2 separate regions of the Homo sapiens genome follow, and region 2 is linked to region 1. A link means that fine-mapping ties the variant in region 1 to the expression of a gene that starts in the linked region. Tissue or cell type: sun-exposed skin. Region 1 holds a variant in brackets; the other region holds the start of a gene. All regions are shown on one strand. Distances are from middle to middle.

What was found. PIP is the estimated chance that this variant, and not a neighbour inherited with it, causes the effect.
Region 2: ZNF182 starts here. The variant in region 1 is fine-mapped to the expression of ZNF182 in sun-exposed skin (GTEx, PIP above 0.99). The same link has a PIP of 0.9 or more in tibial nerve and transverse colon.

What each region holds. Positions count from the first base shown.
Region 1 is chrX:48,118,008-48,120,695 of GRCh38, reverse strand. It overlaps the pseudogene SSX6P. Among named protein-coding and RNA genes, the nearest start is that of SPACA5B, 11 kb to the left of the region's middle. The variant C/G (reference allele first, on the strand shown) is at 1,250.
Region 2 is chrX:48,002,485-48,005,172 of GRCh38, reverse strand. It overlaps ZNF182 (zinc finger protein 182), which reads left to right and starts at 1,184. Exons shown (of 6, transcript NM_001007088.2): 1 at 1,184-1,264; 2 at 1,471-1,665; 3 at 2,520-2,578. The coding sequence starts at 2,564. It also overlaps a transcript of SPACA5 not described here. RefSeq lists an enhancer at 1,259-1,568.

The sequences.
Region 1 (2,688 bases):
CAACTGGGGAACGTTTGCAAAGGTTTATTAACTGTCAGTGACTGATAGAGGGGAATCGGATGAGGGGAGTACATGCTGAACAGGAAACAGAGTGAGGGGGGCTTGACCAGGACACATGGCAGTGGAGAAAAGCAGATGGGAGATGCTTATACTGGTACTTGGTGTGTGTGTGTGCGTGTGTGGTGTGTGTGTAAATGCAGAGGAAAAAATCGGAAATTAAACACTCAGACCTCCCCTCAGTAGTCACATCTGGGGAGAGAGGAGGGTAGTGCTGTTCTATGGAGAGAATACCTGACAATACTTGTTTTCTGAGGTAGGTGCATGGATACACAAGCCGAAATATGCATTAAGCATGTCTTGCTCATCAACGAAAATGCTAATGTCTAACAGAATGGCACACTGCAAGAAAATACAACGGAAACGCCAACATCGAACTCTTGGCACACTAAGAAAAATGACGCTCAACTTTTCACTGTTGTGAACACTTGCTTTCACTTGCTATACACCTGATGACGAGGGGTCCGCAGCCATGCCCACGTTCGTGAAAGGTCACCACGTTCTGCTTCTCATCATGGGCATGTGTCGTATCCCTGAGGCTGAGGCAAGAAGAGAGAAGGAAATAAGTGGCAGTGAGTTCCCACCACGTGGCAACTCAATCTCAACTCCTCCTGACCTGCAGACCCTGCACACTCTGATTCTGCCCTACCTCAGGACCTGCACACGCCTTCCACGGTTCCTCGAAGTGAACCATCTGTTCATGCCACAGTGACTTCCTCGCCTGAGTTATCAATTTCTAGGCTAGAGAAAGGTGTGGCCCGCATATCAGTGCTGACCTGGGGTTTGGGAGCCCACAGCATCCAGGGTAGGGAGGATCCCTGGATATACAGGGCAGGGAGTAGGAAGAGCATGGGAAATCTCATCGTTCAGCCTCAATGCTGTACAGTAGAAAATTATGAGAAGGGAATGATTTGGGGAACAAGTGACAGATGGGATACCAGTACCATAACAGAATAGCACATCTGCAGGGATGTGGAGGGTGAGCCGAAGGTTCACTTATGGAGTTACTTGTCATCTTCCTCAGGGTCGCTGATCTCTTCATAAATCACCAGCTGCTTTCTCTCACGCAGTCTGTGGGTCCAGGCATGTTTCCCCCTTTTGGGTCCTATGATGGAGAAGAGTTGGGAGATGAGGGTTGGGTAGGTTGGAGAGTGTTACGCTCTGTTTTCTCAAAAGCAGGAGATGCCTCCCC[C/G]CTCCCAAGTGCCCATGGGCCTTCTTTATCCAGTTTTTCACATTCTCTGGCTTAGAGAGGCTGAGACCTTAAACCCACACCAATACACGACAAATACCAATTAAAGTTTTTAGCTTCTGGCTCCTTCTGTTGTGACGTTTAGATTACCAACCTCTTCACTTACGGGAACATTCACCCTTACCTCCTTTCATTCTGCAAGTATTTGTTAAGGGCACACAGGCATACCTCGTTTTATTGCACCTCATTTTCGTAGTGCTTCGCAGATACTGCATTTTTTTTTAGAAATTCTCACCAATTTTACACTTTTCCATTATTATTATATCTGTTATGGTGATTTGTGATCAGTGAGCTTTGATGTTATTATTGCAATTGTTTTTGTTGTTTTTTAGTCTTTTAAAATAATTTTTGTTCTTTATTTTGTGGGTACGCAGTAGGTGTATATTCTTATGGGGTACATGAGATGCTTTGATACAGTCATGCAAATGCGTAGTAATCACATCGTGGAAAATAGGGTATCCATCCCCTCAAACATTTATCCTTGTGTTACAAACAATCCATTTACACTCTTTTAGTTATTTTTAAATGTATGATTAAGTTATTATTGACTATAGTCACCCTGTTCTGTGTAAATGTTTTGGGGGTACTAAGAACTGCGCCCACAGAAGATGACGAACGTAATCAATTAATGTTGTGTGTGTTCTGACTGCTCCACCGATGAGCTCTTCCCTGCCTCTCTTCCTTTTCTTGGGCCTCCCTATTATTTCCTGAGACACAGCAATACTGAAATTAGGACAATGAACAACCCTACAATGGCCGCTAAGTGTTCAAATGAAAGGAAGAGTCGCATGTCTCTCACTTTAAATCAGAAGCTAGAAATGGCTAGGCTTAGTGAGGAGGCATGCTGAAAGCCAAGACAGGCTGAAAGCTAGGCCTCTTGCACCAGCCAAGCTGTGAATGCAAAGGAAAAGTTCTTGAAGGAAATAATAGTATATACTGCAAAGGAAAAGTTCTTGAAGAAAATAATAATACTAATACTCCAGTGAACACACGAATAAGAAAGCAAAACTGCCTTACTGCTGAAATGAGAAAGTGGTCAGGATAGAAGACGAAACCAGCCACAACATTCCCTTAAGCCAAAGTCTAATTCAGAGCAAGACCCAAACTCTCTTCCAGTCCAGGAAAGCTGAGAGAGGTGAAGAAGCTGCAGAGGAAACGTGTGAAACTAGCAGAGGTTGGTTTGTGAGGTTTAAGGAAAGAAGCTGTCCCCATAACATAAAAGTGCAAGGTGTAGCAGCAAACACTGATGGAGAAGCTGCAGCAAGTTATCCAGAAGATCTAGCTAAAATCACTGATGAAGGTGGCTACACTAAACAACAGATTTTCAATATAGATTAAACAGCCTTCTATTGGAAGCAGATGCCATCTAAAACTTTCATAGC
Region 2 (2,688 bases), 120 kb after region 1:
CAACAGATGTGAGTTCCTTTTTTACTTTCTTTCTTTCTTTGTCTTGTCTACTGGGAAGCTCCATTCCTTTTGTTGTTGTTGTTGTTTGTTTGTTTTTTGTTTTTGAGATGGAGTCTCACTGTGTTGCCCAGGCTGGAGTGCAGTGGTGTGATCTTGGCTCACTGCAACCTCTGCCTCCCGGGTTCAAGCGATTCTCCTGCCTCAGCCTCCAGAGTAGCTGGGATCACAGGCGTGCTACCAAGCCCGGCTAATTTTTGGTGTTTTTAGTAGAGACGGGGTTTCACCATGTTGGCCAGGCTGGTCTTGAACTCCTGACCTCAGGTGATCCGCCTACCTTGGCGTCCCAAAGTGCTGAGATTACAGGCGCACGCCACCGTACCCAGCCCAATATATGTGTATTTTTAACGTTACTATATAATGCTAGATTGCTTCAGACTGGTCTTTACAGATCGGATCCTTCTTATGGTTTCCCATATGTCCAGAATGAAATATGAGCTCCCTGGCCAAGGAGGCCCTACAGCACCTGGCCCCAGCCTACACCCCCTACACTCCCAACACACTGACACTGTCTACTCATCCAGAAAAAGCAACCTGTTAGCCACCACTTAATATACCCCTTCACCCCCGGTGTGTGTGTCCCACATCGCCGTTTATTTTTCAGCTTGTTTGTCTGCATACCGACCCACCGTCCTTCAAACGCTACAACGTAAACTCCCAGTCCTGGCCACTGGATGAAGCCAGTGGCTTTTCCCTACCTCCTACTCTTTGTGCACGCAGAGCAATTTAGCCACGCATCCCGCCTTCCCGTTATTTTACACCTGCAACCCTGTTGCTGCCCTCCAAGTTCAAAGTGCGAAATTGCCGCCTGCTAGAATCTTTTCCTTAGTTGGGCACTTCCCCTCCCCGCCCTGCCGTAAGAAAATTGGTGTCTGAAGTCTTAGGAGTGCCTGCCTCTGCATAACTAAGTAAACAACCGCTTTGCGACGCAGCCCCAGCAGCAAAAGGACACGGTGGGCACGGCCATCTGGCCTGGAGCAGTGACGTCACCGGCAAGGCTACCTTCCCTCTGCGCCTGCGCTGCGGCCCCATGTTGACTATTGGCGGACGGGGTCTCAAAGGCGCCACTGAGCGTGCGCAGAACCGACCCCTGCAGCCCTTTAGGCTGCGGTGCCAAAGAGTCGGTCCCGAAGCGGAAGTGCTTGTTGGGGCCAGGCTTTGTAACGGTCTCCTGAGCAGCGAGCAGAAAATCTGTTATCGAGAGAGAGTGAGGTTGAGGGGGCAAGTGCTAGGGGTCGTGGGCTGAGTGATGGGGAGTTCTGTGGGATGAGTGAAGTGGGAGTTGGGGGTTGAGTGATGGGGGACCGAGAGGTCAGTGGACGAGGTTCTAGGGGCTCACTGGTGAACAAAGTTATGGGGGCTAAGCAGGATTAAATGGGGCTTATTAAACTTTGACTTTTACACGTTTTCCAGCACAGTGACCTGCCCCTAAAGGTTCATGCGCATCCCTCAGACCCCTCTTTAGACGCGCCCCGCTTCTCCCTCTGCCCTCTCCCCTTGCCCAAGCCCCGAGGTGGGGGCCTGGTGTGAATGCTCCGGCCGAAGTGAACCTGCACCCCCGCACCCGAAGGCCTCTTTCCGGCTTCTGGGCAAGGCGGCCCCGGTGAGGTGAGCAGAAGGAAGGAGAGGCACCTGCGAGGTCTCACCTGACCCCGGGCCTCGCCCAAGTTGGGGGCGTGGGAGGAGGGGTAGGTGCGGGGTCTGAGGGAGATGGGGGTAAAATGTAATTGGGATAATAGTTTTAGAGTGTAGTTTTTTTTGGCATTTAATAAATAACATTTGAATATATAGATTAATTCTGAAATAGAGAAAAAGAAAATCAACAGGAACTAATTCTTCCCCCACACATTTAAATGTCCGTTTTTAGACATTTTTGGTGTGTATAGGGGTATGCCTTTTAAACATTTAACATATAACTTTAAAATGGATTCCCGCAGTTTTAAAACCTACTTTGTAATTCACCTTAGGATTTTTTTGTACACCTTTTAAAAACGTTTAGTTGAGATACATATACCACAAAGTGCATAGATACTGTACAGTTCCATATAACGCTTTTAACAGCTTTGTAGCATTTTATCTTTTATATTTTGTTATTATTAATCCCTTATGGGTCATAGAGGATCGTTTAAGTTTGGCATTATTGAAATCAATGCTGAGACGTGGGTACGTGCAGAGAAATTATGATACATTATGATAAATTATTTCCTTAAGGAAAATACCTACAAATACACTTTATGGGTCAGTACACAATTTAATATATGTGTATATAAAACCTTTTGTGTTCAATGTTCACATGAAGAGTGAATAATACACAGATTGTTAAAATCACATGGTTGCCCAGACTCTTCCAGAGAGCAGTCTGATGGCCAGCTGATGTGAGGGGATTGCTAGGCAGCTAATTCTGGGCACTGAAAGTCTGATGGGGTCTCCTCATCTGCTGTACTCTTCTCCACTTGTTCCAGCTCGGCCGTCACACATCTCTGCTTTTTCCCAAGAAGAGCAGGAAATGGCCAAACCCCAGGTAAGTATGTTGTCTGTTTCTTCATTCCTCTATTTTACTGTGGATGTGACGAAATATGTGGAAATCCCTGCCATAAAATAGGAAAGTATTTGTAAATAAGGATTGGATCA